2 separate regions of the Homo sapiens genome follow, and region 2 is linked to region 1. The links come from fine-mapping of genetic effects on gene expression. A gene starts in region 1. The other region holds a variant in brackets. All regions are shown on one strand. Distances are from middle to middle. Region 1 holds the start of ANXA5 (annexin A5). Region 2 has its middle 35 kb from the start of ANXA5.

The links.
Region 2: its variant is fine-mapped to the expression of ANXA5 in blood mononuclear cells (TOPMed, PIP above 0.99).

The regions. Positions count from the first base shown.
Region 1 is chr4:121,692,168-121,702,488 of GRCh38, forward strand. It overlaps ANXA5 (annexin A5), which reads right to left and starts at 4,813. Exons shown (of 13, transcript NM_001154.4): 1 at 4,696-4,813; 2 at 4,414-4,457. The coding sequence starts at 4,422. RefSeq lists a silencer at 4,762-5,181.
Region 2 is chr4:121,657,099-121,666,846 of GRCh38, forward strand. No RefSeq gene overlaps it. Among named protein-coding and RNA genes, the nearest start is that of ANXA5, 35 kb to the right of the region's middle. The variant G/A (reference allele first, on the strand shown) is at 3,650.

The sequences.
Region 1 (10,321 bases):
TGTTTCTTAAAATCAAATGCAAGGGAAAAAAAACATCACTGGAGAACAGACTAAGTTGTTTGCATCGTGGTAGAAAAGAAGGTTTTGATAACAAAGTGAAGATTTGTAAAATGATTTAAATTTTTGTTGTGTATTTCTTTAATGCTCTGTGTTTAATGTTGTGTCTCTTTACCAGTGTAAGAATGACTTCCCTTGACAAACACCAATAAAATGGAAAGTTAAATTGTGTGCTCAAGTTGCCCAAGAATAACTCCAGTGATGTCTTGAGTGAGTTAAAGTGAGCAGGTGGCATTGGCCTCCCATGAGTTCACATTGAAGGTCAGAGGAGAGTATGCTCTTTTACCAAATTGTTCCATTGGGCATTCCATGAATAACACTTGAAAAGTTCTATCCCTTCCAAGACAAGGCTTGATTTCCCCACCTCACTGCAGTTTCACTCCATCATGCCAAACTCTTTTACACCCCTAAGTATTTATTTGCTGTTGTTACCTCTCTGTATGATGGCTTCCCTCCTTTGTCCCATACAAAGAATGCCAGCTAAGTAACCTCAATTTCCCCTTCTGTGAAACAAAAATAGTAATACCTATTTCCAAAACTGTGTTATGAGGACTAAATAATGCACACAAAAGACTTGGCAATGCATCTATTATATCAATAAATCTTAGATCCATTTCCCATTGCGCTCATGTTTAACAATACTTGGCACATAGTGAAAATGCAAAAGCCTCATGCATTCATGAATGCATGCATGGATGAAAAAGAGAACAGTTAAGAACTAGTGTCCCACCAGGCGCAGTGGCTCATGCCTGTAATCCCAGCACTTTGGGAGGCCGAGGCACACGGATCACTTGAGGTTAGGAGTTCGAGACTAGCCTGGCCAACATGGCGAAACTCCGTCTCTACTAAAAATACAAAAATTAGCCAGGCGTGGTGGCACATGCCTCTAATCCCAGCTACTCCGGAGGCTGAGGGAAGAGAATCAGTTGAACCCAGGAAGCAGAGGTTGCAGTGAGCTGAGATCACGCCACGGCACTCCAGCCTGGACAACAAAGCGAGACTCCATCTCGGGGGAGAAAAAAAAAAACCCAAAAAACTAGTGTCCAAAGAAATGAAGCCAGGAGTATAATTCCTTGCAATTAATCAATTGATGATATGTTTACATATTATGTAAACTAACTAAACTGAAAGACTGCGTCTAAGAAGCACTTAAAGCAAAGGTCTTAGGAGCCCTAATTTTTAAAAAACAGATGCATTTGTGAAATTTTAGAATAGTATGAAGGTTATATGAATAAAATGTATTTCAGGAATGAATCTATGCTGTAAAAGCACTGTTATATTTTTACCATTTTGAACTTCTAAGTCATTAAAAGAAGAAAGCCGGACTGCCTGCCTGTAACTAGCCTGATCACCTATGTAGGCCTTCCAAGGAGAACTGGATATTAGATAAGGAAATCAGGGTTTGCTGAATGCCAATGAATTGCTCAGTGGCTTGCAAAGCAGCCAAGTAGTTTTTGATCTAGTTCTTTCTCAGCAGCCAAAATGAACTTAAGAGTTAAACAGATAAGGAACCAAGAGAAATCACCAGGAGCAGCACAGGCCACGGGTAAACAGGTAACCCTGATCTAAGATCCCAAAAGTGAACATTAGCTCCAGAGAGACTTGACTTTAAAAAATGAATGGCATGAAAAGATGCAATCAATATCCAGTCAGCTCCTCTGGAAGGAGTTTCATCTCAAATTTATTTATTTACATTTATCCTGCTTGCTCGGCACAGGGCTTTTTTAAATTATTATAATAATTTTAAACCAACCGAAAATATTTCTGATCAAACCTTGTAACTTAAACATATACCATAGAGATAATTCTGATGTTCATGAGAACACTTGGACACAGAAAGGGGAACATCACACACCCACACCGGGGCCTATTGTGGGCGGGGGGGAGGGGGGAGGGATAGCATTAGGAGATACAGCTAATGTAAATATTGAGTTAATGGGTGCAGCACACCAACATGGCACCATGTATACATATGTAACAAACCTGCATGTTGTGCACACATACCCTAGAACTTAAAGTATAATAAAAATATATATATAATAAAAAATAAATAAAAAATAAACAAAAAAATTCTGATGTTCATGAAGCTTCTAATGAACAATTACGTAGCCTAGTTTTGCCTTCATGACATTCTTACTGCTCAGACGCCGCACCCAACTTTAATACTAAACTTTTTTTTTGAGACGTAGTCTCACTGTTGCCCAGGCTGGAGTGCAGCAGCGCGATCTCAGCTCACTGCAACCTCCGCCTCCCGGGTTCAAGTGATTCTCCTGCCTCAGCCTCCCGAGTAGCTGGGATTACAGTTGTGCACCACCATGCCCAGCTAATTTTTGTATTTTTAGAAGAGACGAGGTCTCACCATGTTGGTTAGGCTGGTCTCGAACTCCTGACCTCGTGATCCACGTGCCTCAGCCTCCCAAAGTGCTAGGATTACAGGCATGAGCCACCATGCCTGGCCAATACTAAATATTTTAACAAAATGTTTTACTTTCATGATTTCCAAAAATAGTAACAAAACTAGAACAAAATTTAACACTCTGTATCTTTTTTAAAACATTACTTGTAACTTTTATGATTAGTAAAAACTGTAGTTTTGATAGAAAACAGTCTTGGTGTTATATTGTCATAGGGCTCAGGTACATAATTTTATATGCAAACCACCATTCTCCTAGGTTTTCTATACACATGGCCTTTATGATACTAATCATTCTTTGAAATTATTAAAATTAATGTCCACAACTGGAAAATATGTTCGCTTATACTATTTGGGTAAACAGTCTACATAATGAAAAGGAATTGATGGACCCTCAGACATCACTGGGGAACTTACAAGAGATTCAAGAAACTGCTAAATGAGCAAAGATAGAGGGAATTATTATTCGATGCTTGTTAAATCTTCATGTACATCACCACACCAGCATATCAAGATAGGAAAAATATTACTCAGGAAAGTTAATTCCACATAAAAGTATCCTTTCTATGGAGAAGAACTTAAACCAAACTTTCCACTTGAAGTAATATGAGAATTGGTTTACTGTAACATTTAAGTGCAAAAGAGGAGGTAAGAATGGGATCACTGTGTAAGTTTCATAAAGTAATCAACTAATCTTAATCCTCCCATTTTCACTTGGAAAGGACCAAGAAACCTTTTTCAATTTTGATAAGTCAATCTGATAAAAAGTGAACTATAAATAAGAGACAGCATTGTTTTAGCAGTTAAAACACTTGTTTAAAAAAAACTATCTGGACTCTGACAAGCCGGTTAGATTGACAAGATCTGTGAAATCAGTTTTAGAGTTTTTAAGCCCTGGTATCTTATTCACAAAAGACTGTATAACATGGTCAATATTTAAAGACCTTAAACTATCTTCTCTTTCCTACATTTTTGATAAACATTAATAACAGTAAAGAAACCAGGCGCAGTGGGATTACAGTCCTGAGGCCGAGGCGGGAGGATCACTTGAGGCAAGGAGTTTGAGACCAGCCTGGCCAACATGGTGAAACCCCGCCTCTACTAAAAATACAAAATTAGCTGGGCATGGTGGGGCGCCTGTAATCCCAGCTACTTGGAAAGCTGAGACACGAGAATTGCTTGAACCCGGGAGGCAGAGGTTGTAGTGAGCGAGATCACTACGTCACTGGACTCCAGCCTGGGCGACAGAGTGAGACTCCGTCTCAAAAAAAAAGGAAAAAAAAAAAACAGTAAAGAAAGCCTGTAGTAGATTATCAATTTCTGAAACAGTCCCAAGGCAAATTCAATTGAGAACTCGTTCCACGAGTTCATTGCTTAAGAAAAACAGCGCTTGTGTTTAATCTTTTGGATTAAAAAAAAAATCAGAGCCTACGTCCTACAGTTTTAGTAAAACTGGGCTGAGCAACTGGAAAAAGCCAATGCTCAATCACAGTATTAAAATACAGAAAACTTTGCGGAAAAAAAATAAAGGAAGTCGGGGGGCGGGGTGGGGGGGGAATGCGTTCGCCTCACATGACCACGATGAGCTGTTCTTGCTCCGGTTCTAATTTGAGCTACTCTCTGGATTTTGGGGAAGGCCCACTTTTACACATTCACTCATGAAAAGGGAGCGCACACAAATCCGGCCACGTCACCAGCTGTTGCGCGCGAAGGCAGCTTGGCGGCGTCGGTGCTGGTTCCGGAGGGCGCTCAGCGGGAAGAACCGGGACACAGAAACGGGGGCAGGGAAGCAAAGGGGGAACAAGAAAAGTGGAAGCGATGTCCCCAAAGCAGGTTCCCTTTCCTCCTAAACTTTTTGGCTCTCAGACAAATCCTAAAAGTCCCTCGTCGCAGCATACAAAGTTGTGGGTAAATCCAGCGCAGTGGGGGGCGCACGGCCTTACCTGTGCCATGGCGACTACTCAGGTCAGGGGAAGGTGAAGCAGGACTGCAAAAGAGAAGAAACCTCGGGCTTAGCGCGCCATTTGCAACTCGTGCCCTCCCCAAGCGCAGGTCCGCGGGGACCCGGCGGCGCTCAGACAGCCCGGAGGGCCCCGCCACGGGGCCGACCCGCCCTCTCGCAGCTACCGGGACAGCTCTCGGCCGAGCGTCCGCGCGAATCCAGTGCCCCGCGACCACGCTCTCCTCTCCAGAAGGAGCCCCCTCCCCGGGCTGCGACCACTCACCCAGACTGTGGGACCCAAGTGCCCCGAAACCCCGGGAGAGCGGCGGAGAGCCGGGCGACGGTACGCGGGGCGACGCCGAGATGCAGACGCTGAAGGATCCGGCAGCTGCACCTAGACTGATCCAAGCAACGGAAACGCCAGCGGCCCCACCCCGGCCCTGCCCGGCTTGGCCCGTCCCACCCCCGCCAGGGCCCCAACCGCAGGCCGGCCGCGCCAGCCGGGCCCGCCCCTGCCCCGGCCTCAGCGCGCCTGCGTGGGTCGCGGCTCGTCCCAGTTGGTCTCCCGCGGCGCGGACTGTCCCGCTGGTCTCGCGGGCCTGGGTGGGGAGCGGCCGCAGAGCTGCTGGAACCAGGAGGAGGCGCCGCTCCCCCGAGGGCCCCGGAGACCTCTTGTCCTCGCGCCGCGGGAAGGGCCTGGGGAGCTGTCCAGGGCTCGGGGTTTTGGAGGTGCTTGAGCCTCCCTGCCCTCTGTGACCGCAGGAACCGTAGCCTCACTTGGGTGCTCAACATAGTGCGTGGGCGTCTTTTTGGAGGCGAGACAAAATCATCGCAGCTAAGGACAGCGCGCCTTTGTCGATGGGATAGAAAAAACGTGAAAGGAGGGCCGTTTCCCAAGTTGTTTTTGTTTCTGTTTTGTTTTGTTGTTTTGTTGTTGTTTTAATGCCTATTATTGCTTCCTAGATGGCCCTCTCTTAAATGTACAGCCTTCTAGTAGCGTATGTGGGCTATTTGAAAACCTCTGCTTCCAATCAGTTTCTGTTTTCAAAACTAGCCTAGAACTTTAATATGACTTAAATTTGAGCAATGCCTCATATTGGTTCAACATAAAATATATGAGTATATGAGAGAGAGGGGGAGGGAGGGAGAATCTACAGCGTATTGTACTAGCATGGTGCTGTGTTCTGTGAAAGGGCTTTATATGCAAAGCAGCCCCCAAACGCGAAGGAGTCAAGAAACCAAAGAACGAGACAGACAAATCCAGTCTGTAGGTAATAGGGGTGCTATTGGAGGATGTGGTAGACAGAAGCGTGGCCTTGGGCGGCGGCAAGCAGATAAATTTCTGCACTGTTACTCCCCAGACCCTGGCCTTATATACCGTAAGGAAAGAGTATACTGCTCTGTGCAAGACAATTAAAGGCAGCCCTCCGGAACAGGTGAGAATGCCGTATGCTTCATAGCCTACAATGTGGGCAATAGCATCAAGGTTGACATGTTCTTATGCTAAGGACAGTTTAAAAAAAAAATCCTAGGAATCAGGAGGTATTCATGGGACTGGGGTTATTAAAGGTCAACATGGCGGATTAGCATCCGGGATATAATCACTTTTGTCTCCATATGCTGGAAAAGGAAAAGTAGAAGACACAGGGACCTTCTCAGACTTACTGGTGTGGGGAGGGAAGGTGCCAGGGCAGAGGGGGCAAGAGGACAAGTTTGCGACACTAGATGCAGTGTTCTAGACATATGCTAGAATGGGAAGGGCAAAGTGCTTCTCAACGTGGAGGTTAAGGGTAAGAGATGAGGATCTAGTCTTCTTTGAGAATGAGGAAGAATAAATTAAATGGACAGCAAATGTGGTTCTTTGTATAGAACTTCTCATTCGCTTTCACGTGTGAACCACATGCCTATTCCAGCCCTGACAAAGTCACAACAGAGTGGTTGTTCTCTGGGAAAGGAGGCAAAATTGCAAAATTTGTGGAGCTTGCCAACCCCATCACCCCCACCCCACTGGCGGGTTGCCTTTCCTCTGGGAGCCTCCTCTCCACCAGCCCAGCTGTCTACTCAGCCTCAGGCTCTCCCCAAGTCAGCACCTCCCCCGGGTTTTCTTTACAGGTATTAATATATCTGAAGGCAGCCCTTTTCTGAGCATCTGTCTCCGTTGCTCCAGCTTTTCTACTTTCTCTCTGCCCTGCACCAAAAGCAGGACCTGTAGTCTTGCCTAGAGCATTCTTTTTTCTCACCCATATCCACTTGAACTCAGTTTGCTTCTCTCACTTTCTACTCTCACATTAATGGAGTTAAACAGGACCTCAGAGATCCTGTATTTAACAATCATTGATTTTACAGGGACATGAGACTCATCATGGGTTAGTGACTTGCTCTATGTCCTGCAGCTAAATACTGACAAAATCGATGAGTTATTGGACTCAGAGTCTTGAAATACTCCAGGTAGCATTTCTTTCACTTCCAGTAATATCAGTTTATTCAACTCCTACTCTGGACCAGGCACAGATCTAGGTGCTGGGGTAAACACGGCAAGTGAAACAAAGGCCTTGCCCTCATAGGTCATACATTCTGGTGGAGGAAACAAACAATAAACAAGTATCTAATATGTCCTGTGTGATGCGTGGTATAAAGAAAATAAAGGCTAGGGAATGGAAATGAAGGGAACACTTATTTTGCAAAGGTGATATGAAGCCATTTCTGAGAAGCCTTGAACAGAAACCTAAATTGATACAATTTAATTGTATTTGACAACTATACACTGAGCACCTGTGGAAAGGCCATACCTAAGAGTTTGCACCTTAATATTATAGATAAAGCATGTATATGAACACTACAATGAGAGACTATAAATCAGGAAAGAAATGCCTAGAATGCAATCAAAATGCAATTAGTTTCAGAGGAAGGAGCTAATATTTTGTCAGATGGTTGACATAGCATTTGGATTAGGCTTTTGAGAGAGGATATTTTATCAAACTATGAAGGGGAGAAAGGGTGGTCTGGTTAAGTGAACTGCAAAACCAAGAGAAGGAAAGTATCTCTTTGTGTCTGTGTGATTTGAACTGTCTAAAATGGCTGGAGTGGAAGGTACAATATTAGAGTTGAGAGATGTAGAAACTAAAACACAAAGAAGCTCAGCGACTTATTTAGAATAAAGAGAGATTGCCACATAAAGATTCTGCTTTGAATTGTGTATTTAATTGATGGATTTTGAACAACTGATGTTCTTAACTACTGAGTGATATAAATGATAGGCACTCAGGAAATCTCTTTCACTACCTCTTGTCAGCCTAATAACAAACAGAGAGGGAGACTTTCTAAAAGAAAATGATGTTTATTTGGGAATGGGCATTGCAATGGGAATATGTGTGCCATATTAAACTATTTTGCGTATTCAGGGAGGTAAAGGAAGGCAAAGGTTTTTCAAGGAAGAAGGAAGATTACATCATTGTTTTTGAGATAATTATCCTTGGCTACAGTAATCAATAACTAGAGTGGCACCAGTCTAATGTTGTACAGGCAGTTGCTGGGCAGATGTCTCCGCAGAAGTTCTCATTTTCTCTCTCTCTCTCTCTCTCTCTCTCTCTCTCTCTGTGTGTGTGTGTGTGTGTGTGTGTGTGTGTGTGTGTGGTTGCAATGGCCTTTGTCCAAAGTTGTGGTTTTTGCAGTATTTTTCAATAGTTCTTGTTATCAGGCATTTATGTATTAGAACCCTCCCTTCATGGCCTTCCCCAGCCATTTGTCAGGGATTTGTCTCGTTTTTTAACACAATTGACTCCATTTTGATAAGGACAGCTTTCACACTCTTAAAAACAAGTGTCTGTCATTCATCCCCCAATGGCCTTTATCAGTGTCCAAATGTCATCTTTAGAATCTCTGCCGGATTCGCCAGTTAAGTCTTTCATCTTTCTAATTAAATTTTCTCTTCTTACACATTTAAAAATTAAAGTCCTTCTTTCTCAGTGTATTGTCTTTGTGTTGTGTTCATTATAAGTACTACATAATAATTGTGGGGAGTTTTTTATACTATTCTTAGATATAAATAATGAGTTTCAGCTGTTTTCTATGAGACACTCAGGTCACATCAATTTTCTTTTTATTAGAGAAATATACCAAATGCCAGAGAACTAATTTACAAACACACTTTTGAAACTGTATTTATTTGTTAACTCAGGATTTTCCCTATTTCTCTCAATTATTTGGATCATTCAGGAACTAGCCAATTTATTCTAAATAAGTCGCTGAGCTTCTTTGTGTTTCAGTTTCTACATCTCTCAACTCTAATATTTTGATCATATATTCATGGCCCTACTGTTTCCCTTGATTATAATGACACATAAAGAAAAGAAAATGAGTTACAGGCTTTTTATAAATAAGTACAAAACAACTCTTCTTTAGTTTTAGAGGAATTGGAATCTTGTTTTTTAGAAAATTATAACATTTTCAACCAGTCTACTTTAAAAATTGATTTTGTTTAATAAATATATCTATTGCAAATTATGGCAAGTTAAAGAAGAAGAAAAGATGGCAGGAGAATGAATTGCATGAAGCAGAAGAAACGAGAGAGTGGCTGAGGAGTAAAGTAGGGGCTAGATACAAAGGGAAAGGAGGAACATCATGTCTTCCAGGCAAGATCTGGAAAAAGCACACTCTCTGAAGACAGAGACAGTTGAGTTCAAATCCCTACTCTGCCTGCATACCAGGGATGTGACTTGGACAAATTATGTGATTTCTCTGATCCTTGGCTTCCTTATCTAGAGTGGAGGCTAGTTTCAAATAAGTTAATTTGTGAAACTGCCTAACAAATTGTGAAAAAGGGTTGATTCCATTCCCCCATGGCTCTTTTTTCTTTCAGAAACACTAACCATCATTCTCAGTTCCTGTTCTGATGATTAAGGACCCACCTTCATATTAAAAGCAAAAATAACCTCCTCTGGACCCACTGCTCCACTGCAGCAGGACCTATTGCCAGCCAGTCTCTCAGAGACGGCAGGTCCAACTCTTGGGGGCCAACCTGATGCTTCCTGGTGCCATTCCCCCTTCTTCCCGCCTATTCTGCCTCATCCAGAGTCTACCATCGATGGCCCCTATCAACATACAACTAGCCTAGACCCCCACCCTCTACCCTTCTCTCCACACGTGGGCCCTCTGATCCCCATCTGCTGGTGCCAACAACTGTAAAACCGTCACCTGGAATTTAATTCAAGTCACCTATCTGCCCTCAACTCATTCATGTCTTAAAGTCCCAGGGTGAGATTAGAGGTGGGGCTGCCTTCCTCAGTGGGCTCTGTCAAGTCTTTTTCCACCATCATCTCTACATCCCAGCAGTGATACTGGAATGTAGCTTTATTCTAGTGGCTCCCCATTCTTGCTCTTTAGGTTTAAAGTGGTTGTAGTGTCTCTGGAGAAAATAGGTCTCTCAGTGTGTTCAGGCTGCCATAACAAAATTGCATGAAGTGAGTAGCTTATAAACAACAGAAATGTGTTTATCACAGTCTGAAGCCTGGAAAGTGCAAGAACAAGGTTCCACAGATTTGGGGTCAGGTGAGGGCTTGCTTCCTCATAGACAGCCATCTTTACTGTAACCTCACATGGCAGAAGAGACTAGCTAGCTCTCTGGGGTCTCTTTTTTAAAGGCACTCTTAGTCCCTTTTCTGTTGCAATAAAAATACCACACACTGGGTAATTTATAAAGAACAGAAGTTTATTTGGCTCACAGTTCTGGAGACTGGGAAGTCCAAGAGCATGGCACCAGCGTCTGGTGAGGGCCTTCATGCTATATCATCCTGCGGAGGAAGGCAGAAGGTAGAAGGGAAACCAAGCACTTGAGACCAAGAGAAAGGTGACCAAATTCATCCTTTTTATCAGGAACTGACTCCCGAGATAACTAACTCACTCCCGTTCAT
Region 2 (9,748 bases), 35 kb before region 1:
TTAGTCCAGTGATACTAATTTTGGACTTCTGACTTCCAGAACTATAAGATAATCATTTGTGATATTTTAAGCCACTGTGTTTGTGGTAGGTATATATATTTGATATTCATATATGAAAATTTATGTATATGTATAAATGCACACACACACACACATTGCTGTAGGAAGAAAAATGGTTCCATTATTGTGAGAAACAGTTTTTATACAGTTACACATAGACTTACCATATAACCCAGCGATCCCATTCTTATTTATCCAAGAGAAATAGCATATATCCACATAAATATTGTACATGAATCTTTATAGTGATTTTATTCATGATCACTCAGAACTAGAAACAACACTGATGTCTACCACCTGATGAATGAATAAATGTACTGTGTTATATCCATAAAACAGAATATTATTCAGAAAACAAGGACAAACTAATTACTGATACACACTATAAGAAGGTTGTATCTCAAATGCATTATGCTCTTTGAAAGAATTCAGACTCAGCTGGACGCAGTGGCTCATGCCTGTAATCCCATCACTTTGGGAGGCCAAGGCCAGTGGATCACCTGAAGTTAGGAGTTTGAGACCAGCCTGGCCAACATGACGAAACCCCGTCTCTACTGAAAATACAAAAATTAGCCAGGTGTGGGGGGTGTCTGTAATCCTAGCTACTCAGGAGGCTAAGGCAGGAGAATCAGTTGAATTCAGGAAGCGGAGGTTACAGTGAGCCAAGATCACGCCACTGTACTCCAGCCTGGGTGACAGAGCAAGACTCCGTCTCAAAAAGTAAAAAATAAAAAAAAAAGAAAGAATTCATACTCAAAATGCTATACTGTGTGATTCCATTTATATGACATCCTGGGAGAAAAAAAAAAACAATAGAAACTGAAACCAGGTTAGTAATTACCTGAGTTTGGGAGTAGGCAAAAAGGATTGACTATGAGAGGGTTTTAGAAGACTTTTGGGGGAGAAGATGGGGGTAATGATAATATCCTATAACTTAATTGTTGTGATGGTTTCATAATTGCATGCATTTGACAACATTCAAGACACTGTACACCTAAAAAAGATGAATTTTACTGAATGTAAACTCAGCTTCAATATACCTAACTCTAAAAAAATAAAAAAGCAAGTAAGTTGAAACTGGACTTAACTTGAAACTGGGCTGGCCATTTGCTAACTTCAAGATTATCCTGAATTGGTAATACCTGAGCTTTGCAGAATTGCGCAATCTCAAATCAAGCAGAGACTGAGCTGAGCAATAGCCATCATGTTCCCCCACACTCATGTGGTTTACAAGGAAAGTGTTTTAGAAACTTTCATTATGTTCCTCTTCATGTTTTTCCATTATGAATTATCAAAGATTTTATGTATTTATTTTAGGGTAATGTTTTAAAATACATATTCACCTGATTCAACAATCAAAAGATTTAAAAGGTATACAGTGAAATATCTCCCTCTTTTCCCTGTCCCTCATCTACCCAGTTTTCTTCTGCACACACAATCATTATTACTAGTTTCTCATGTATCCTTCAAAAGTATTCTATTCTTGCACAGCAAATGCATACATGAATTCTTATTTTTCCTTTTTTTACACAAAGGGTAACCATATTGTGACCATTATTCTACATCTCAATATCTTCATTTAACAATATTCCTTAATTCTCAGTATTTTTCCACATCAGAACAGAGGAAGCTTTCTTACTCTTTGTGGCTGTGCTGTATCCATTGTACAAATGTACCATCATTACTTTACCCAGCCCCCTATTAACAGGCTTTTAAAATGTTTCCATATTTTGTTATTAGAAGAAATGCTACAATGCATAGCCTTATGCCCATGTTACTGCACATCAGTGGTATCATAAGACAACTTCTAGAAATACAACTGTTGAATCAAAGAGTATATATATATTTATAAATGTGATCTATAATGCCAGATGCCCTCCAAAGAGGATAGAACAATTCACAATGGCACCATCCAGTTATAAGAGCAGCTGATTGAGAAGGCCTTTATCAACAATTATTTTTGTCTTGGCTAATCTGCTCATTGAAACATTGTACCTCACCATAGTTTTATCTTGCATTATTTTTATTATGAACGAGATTAAACATCTTTCCAATTGTTGACTGATAACTTGTATTGCCTGCTCTGTAAATGACCTTTTCATGTCATTGGCCTTCATTTCTCATGAGTTATTGATCCTTTCCTTTCAATATGAAGGACCTCAATATGTATTAGGGAAACTACACCTATGAGTTGCAAATATTTTTCTGTAGGTGATTGTTTTTCTTTTAAACTTGCCTATTGTGCCTTTGACCATTCATAAATCTTTAACTTTCAATTCTAAAAGTTTAAGGTTTATTAGTTGAATTTAATCAGTCTTTTTGTCATTTATGGCTACTAGATTTTATAACATATTAACACTTGTTCCAAAGTCAGATAATAGAGTTAATTTTAATATTTGTATGATTTCTTCTTTTTATATTTAAATCATTGATCATCCTGAGCTGGGAGTTATGGATCCAGTTTTAGTTTTTTGAGATGTCTATCCAAAAGAGTGGGTCCTGGCACTATTTATTTAATAGTTATATTTTCTCTTTTGACTTAAAATGATGCTTTATACTACGTTTCTATCTGTATTGAGGCCTATTTCTGTCATTTTTATTCTATTTAATTGGTCTGTCTGCCTACTGTATGAGTACTACACTTCATTTTAGAGCCACTACCAAAAATAGAAAAATCAGGAAGACATATTTGTCTGTGGGAAATATAATGAATGTACTTTGAATCATTTGCGTATGAGAAGATAATGGTAGCAATAATGGATTTACGTTTTTAAAACATTTGGGGGGCCTCTAAAAAATGTTACAACAGTTGTAATTTTTGTTTTAGTATCTGGTCATTCTAGCCCCTTATCACAGTCCAATTCTTTTTTTTTAATTTTTTATTTAATTATACTTTAAGTTCTAGGGTACATGTGCACAACGTGCAGGTTTGTTACATGGGTATACATGTGCCATGTTGGTTTGCTGCATCCGTCAACTCGTCATTTACATTAGGTATTTCTCCTAATGCTATCCCTCCCCGCTTCCCCACCCCACGACAGGCCCTGGTGTGTGATGTTCTCTGCCCTGTGTCCATGTGTTCTCATCGTTCAACTCCCACCTATGAGTAAGAACATGTGGTGTTTGGTTTTCTGTCCTTGTGATAGTTTGCTGAGAATGATGGTTTCCAGCTTCATCCATGTCCCTGCAAAGGACATGAACTCGTCCTTTTCTATGGCTGCATAGTATTCCATGGTGTATGTGTGCCACGTTTTCTTAATCCAGTCTATCATTGGTGAACATTTGGGTTGGTTCTAAGACTTTGCTATTGTGAATAGTGCCACAATAAACATACGTGTGCATGTGTCTTTATAGTAGCATGATTTATAATACTTTGGGTATATACCCAGTAATGGGATGGCTGGGTCAAATGGTATTTCTAGTTCTAGATCCTTGAGGAAACGCCACACTGTCTTCCACAATGGTTGAACTAATTTACACTCCCACCAACAGTGTAAAAGCATTCCTATTTCTCCACATCCTCTCCAGCATGTGTCGTTTCCTGCGTCAGATGGTATCTCATTGTGGTTTTGATTTGCATTTCTCTGAT[G/A]ACCAGTGATGATGAGCTTTTTTTCATAGGTCTGTTGGCTGCATAAATGTCTTCTTCTGAGAAGTGTTTGTTCATATCCTTTGCTCGCTTTTTGATGGGGTTGTTTTTTTCTTCTATATTTGTTTAAGTTCTTTCTAGATTCTGGATATTAGCCCTTTGTCAGATGGGTAGATTGCAAAAATTTTCTCCCATTCCATAGGCTGCCTGTTCACTCTGATGATAGTTTCTTTTGCTGTGCAGAAGCTCTTTAGTTTAATTAGATCCCATTTGTCTATTTTGGCTTTTGTTGCCATTGCTTTTGCTGTTTTAGTCATGAAGTCTTTGCCCATGCCTATGTCCTGAATGGTATTGCCTAGGTTTTCTTCTAGGGTTTTTATGGTTTTAGGTCTTACATTTAAGTCTTTAATCCATCTTGAGTTAATTTTTGCATAAGGTGTAAGGAAGGGATACAGTTTCAGCTTTCTACATATGGCTAGCCAGTTTTCCCAGCACCATTTATTAAATATTAAATAAAGAATCCTTCCCCATTGCTTGTTCTTGTCAGGCTTGTCAAAGATCAGATGATTGTAGATGTGTGGTGTTATTTCTGAGGCCTCTGTTCTGTTCCATTGGTCTATTGGTCTATATCTCTGTTTTGGTACCAATACCATGCTGTTTTGGTTACTGTAGCCTTGTAGTATTGATGGAACGTATCTCAAAATAATAAGAGCTATTTATGACAAACCCATAGCCAATATCATACTGAATGGGCAAAACTGGAAGCCTTCCCTTTGAAAACTGGCACAAGACCAGGATGCCCTCTCTCACCACTCCTGTTCAACATAGTGTTGGAAGTTCTGGCCAGGGCAATCAGGCAAGAGAAAGAAATAAAGGGTATTCAATTAGGAAAAGAGGAAGTCAACTTGTCTCTGTTTGCAGGTGACATGATTGTATATTTAGAAAACCCCATTGTATCAGCCCCAAATCTCCTTAAGCTGATAAGCAACTTAAGCAAAGTCTCAGGATAAAAAATCAAGGTGCAAAAATCACAAGCATTCTTATACACCAATAACAGACAGAGAGCCAAATCATGAGTGAACTCCCATTCACAATTGCTACAAAGAGAATAAAATGCCTAGGAATCCAACTGATCCAACTAACAAGGGATGTGAAGGACCTCTTCAAGGAGAACTACAAACCAGTGCTCAAGGAAATAAAAGAGATCACAAACAAATGGAATAACATTCCATGCTCATGGATAGGAAGAATCAATATCGTGAAAATGGCCATACTGTCCAAGGTAATTTATGGACTCAATGCTATCCCTATCAAGCTACCACTGACTTTCTTCACAAAATTGGAAAAAACTACTTTAAAGTTCATGTGGAACCAAAAAAGAGCCCACATAGCCAAGACAATCCTAAGCAAAAAGAACAAAGCTGGAGGCATCAGGCTACCTGATCACAGTCCAATTCTTTAGAAAGAATTCTCCTGGCACTCTTACTTGTCTGTTTTTTCACATAAACTTCCAAAAATTTTCTCTGGGTATTTTAATGAGATCACATTAAATGTATAGTTGAATTTAAGGAGAATTGACAATGTCACAATAATAAACTTACACGCACAGCATTTCATAAATGCAGGTGATGGGTAGAAAAATGCACAGAGCGCTATTGCTGGGTCAGAAGGTAAATACATTTATAGATTGGGTAAATATTGCCAAACTACCCTCCAGAGGGGTTATACCACTTTTTATTCCTACTGACCATCTGTGAGAATTCCTAGTTCACTGTAGCTTGCCGTCACAACAACGATGTTCTCCAACTTTTGGATTTTTGACAATCTGATAGGTGGAAAAAGGAATCTCAGTGTAATCTGAATTTGCGCTTCCCTTATTATGAGTTAAATCAAGCATCTTTTCATGCTTAAGGGCCATATTTCTTATTCTATGAACTGCCTATTCATCTCTTTTGCCCTTTTTTTTTCTTACTATAGTACTGGTTTGGGGTTTTTTTCCCTTTAAAAAATGTATATACCTTAATTTAAAACTACTTTATTGCTAAAAAATGCTAACAAACATCTGAGCCTTCAGCGAGCCATAGTCTTTTTGCTAGTGGAGGATCTTGCCTCGACGTTAATGGCTGCTGCTTGGGATACTGCAGCAATTTCTTAGAATAAGACAATAATGAAGTTTGCCGCATTGATTGACTCTTTTTTTAACAAATGATTTCTCTGAAACAGACTTTTTTTTCTAAGAGACAAGCTCTCGCTCTGTCACCCAGGCTGGAGGGCAGCAGCATGATCATAGCTTACTGCAGCCTCAAACTCTTAGGCCTCAGCCTCCCATGCAGCTGGAACTACAGGCATGCACCACCACACCAAGCTCATTATTTTTTCATTTCTTTTTTGAGAGACAGGATCTCCCTATGTTGCCTGGGCTGGTCTTGAACTCCTGGCCTCAAGCAGTCCTCCTGCCTCAGCCTCCTGAGTAGCTAAGCATAAGCCACAGTGTCTAGTAGTAGAGCTTCTTTCAAAATTGGAGTCAATCTTCTCAAACCCTATGGCTGCTTTATCAACTAAGTTTATGGAACATTCTAAATCCTTTGTTGTTGTTTCAACAATGTTCACAGCATCTTCACCAGGAATAGTTTCCATCTTAAGAAACTAATTTCTTTGCTCATCTATAAGAGCAACTCTTTGTCCATTCAAGTTTTATCATGACATTGCAGCAATTCAGTCACATCTTCAGGCTTCACTTCTACTTCTACTTCTGTTGCCATTTCCACCATGTCTGCAATTACTTCGTCCACTGAAGTCCTAGGCCCCTGAAAGTCATCCATGAGGTTTAGAATGAATTCCTTCCAAACTCCTGGTAATGCTGATATTTTTACCTCTGCCCATGAATCATGAATATTCTTAATGGCTGTATTAATCTGTTCCCACACTGCTATAAAGAAATGCCTAAGACTGGGTAATTTATGAAAAGAAATTGAATTGATTCCACAGTTCTACAGGCTGTACATGAAGCATGGCTGGGAGGCCTCAGGAAACTTACAATCATGGCAGAAGGCAAAGGAGAAGCAAGTACATCTTACCATGGTGGAGCAGGAGGAAGAGAGAGTGACGGGAGAGGTGCTACACACTTGCAAACAACCAGATCTTGTGAGAACTCTATTATGAGACAACACTAGGGGATGATACTAAACCATTAGAAACCACCCCAGTGATCCAGTTACTTCACACCACTCAGCACTCAGAATCATAATTCAACATGAGATTTGGGTGGGAACACAAAGCCAAACCATATCAATGGCATCTAAAATGGTGAATCTTTTCCAGAATGTTTTCTATTTACTTTGCCCAGATCCATCAAAAGAATCACTATCTATGGCAGCTATGCCCTTATAAAGTACATTTTTTAATAAGACTTAAAGGTTGAAATTACTCCTTGATCTATGGAGTGCAGAATATATGTTGTGTTAGCAGGCATGAAAACAACATTCAGCTCCTCCTAAATCTCCATCAGAGCTCTTAAGTGATGAGGTGTATTGTCAATGTACAGTAATATTTTGAAAAGGATTTTTTTTCTGAGCAGGTCTCAAAAGTGGGCTTAAAATAACAGCAAACCATGCTATAAACAGATGTGCTATCATCCATTGTTGTACCATTTATAGAATGCAGGCAGAGTAGATTTAGCATGATTTTTAAGGGCCCTAGGATCCAGGGAATGGTAAATGAGCACTGGCTTCAGCTTAACATCACCAGCTGCATTGGCCCCTAAAGAGTCAGCCTGTTCTTTGAAGCTTTAGCCAGGCATTGATGTATCCTCTCTAGCTATAAATTGCATCTTCTAATAGAAGGCTGTTTGTTTACACTAAAAATCTGTGGTTTAGTGTAGCCTCCTTTATCAATTATCTTAGCTAGGTCATCTGGAGAACTAGCTGCAACTTCTGCATCAGCACTTGCTGTTTCAATTTGCACTTTTCTATTACAGAGACGGCTTCTTTCCTTAAGCCGCATGAACCAAAACTGCTCACTTACTTTTCTTCTGCAGCTTCCTCACCTCTCAGCCTTCATGGAATTGAAAATTAGGATCTTGCTCTGGATTGGGCTTTGACTTAAGGGAATGTTGTGGCTGGTTTGATCTTCTAACCAGACTACTCAAACTTTCTCTATATCAGCAATACGGCTATTTCACTGTCTTAATCATTCATGTGTTCAATGGAGTAGCACTTTTAATTTTCTTCAAGAAAGAAAATTAAAATTTACATTTATTCTCAATTTGGCTGTTTGGCACCAGTAGCCTAGCTTTCAGCCTGCCTTGGCTTTTGACCTGCCTTACTCACTAAGCTGAATCACTTTGAACTTTTCATTTAAAATAAGAGATGTGTGAGTCTCTTCCTTTCATTTGAACACTCAGAGGCCATTGCAGGGTTATTAATTGGCCTAATTTCAATATTGTTTTGTCTCAGGGAATAGAAAGGATCAGAGAGAGAGAGAGAAAGAGAGAGAGAGATGAGGGAACAGCCAGTCGGTGGAGCAGTCAGAACTCACATATTTATCAATTAAGCCCACTGTCTTAAATGGGCATGGTTCATAGCACCTTAATTATGACAGTAACATTGAAGATCACTGATCACAGATCACCATAAGATACATAATAATGAAAACTTAAAATATTGCAAGGATTACCAAAATGTGACAAACAGATAAAGAGTGAGCACATGCTATTGGAAAAATGGTGCTGATACACTGACTCAATGCAGGGTTGCCACAAACTTATGATTTGTTTAAAAAAATTTTTTTTTAATTGTTTGCAAAGTACAATAAAACAAGGTGTGTCAGCATGTACAAAGGAGATTAGATCTTTGTTGTATGAACTGTAAATGTTTTCCCGTTTGTCATTTAAATTGTCTTGGTGGTGATTTTCCCTCCCTCCCTCCCTCCCTCCCGTCTTCCCTTCCTCCCTTCCTCCCTCCCTTCCTTCCTTTCCTCCCTCCCTCCCGTCTTCCCTTCCTCCCTTCCTCCCTCCCTCCCTTCCTTCCTTCCTTTCCTCCTTCCCTCCTTCAGGCTCTCTGCAGCCTTGTGCTCCTGTGCTCAAACAATTCTCTCACCTCAGTCTCCCAAATAGCTGAGACCAGAGACGTGTGCCACCACATCCAGCTAATTTTTTGTTTGGTTTTTTAAAAAATAAAAATGGGGTTTTGCCATGTTGTCCATGCTGGTCTCAAACTCCTGTGCTCAAGCAATCCACCCACCTTGGCCTCCCAAAGTGCTGGAATTACAGGCATGAGCCACTGTGCCTGGCCTGCCTTCCATGTAGTTTTTGATTTTTAGGAAATCAAAAATAATCATCTTTTCTCCTATGGCTTCTGGATTTTGGGTGATAGAAAGGCCTCACACTTCAAGATCATTATGGCAGACATGGAACTGCACCACTTAGATCCCCTTTCAAGAAAATACTCAGTTCCAAGCTGTGAAAATGTGGGTTGCTGACAGCCTTCCAACTCTTAATCTCCTTCAGGTTTTGCCTCAGCTTTCCAGCCAAGCCAAGCTCTTCTCCAGAAGACACTTAGCCAATAATTGAGTAAGGAAGGTGGTGGCACAGGGCCCAGGCACTTCTGTCTCACAAAGGGCTCTTTGCAGGAACTCTTTGCCTCAGAGTTCCACATGATACTGGCAAAGATTTGGTCAGGTCTGCAGTGCAATCTGATGACACCCCTTGCCCAATCCTGCCTTCTACCTGTTCCATTCAATAAACCTGTTGCATCCCTAACTCCATCTCAGCATCTGCTTCCCAGAGAATCTAGAAGGTGCAGGTATGATGAAATCCCTCCATGCTTCTTTCTCATATGTTTATGATTTTATTTTTAAGTTTAAATGTTTCATTTTGAGAGTTACCTGATACATGAGGTATAGAAAAAGCCTTATATTTTCCTAGATGGCTCCCCAACTGTCTTCACACCATTTGTTAGAAAAAAATGCTATCTTTACCCAGCAAATTAAGACCTACCTTTAACATATACTAAATTTCCAAATGATTTGTTTCCATATCTGAACTTGCTGTTTTGTCTGTCTATTCATGCCACAGTATTATACTGTTTCAGCTATTCAGGATAT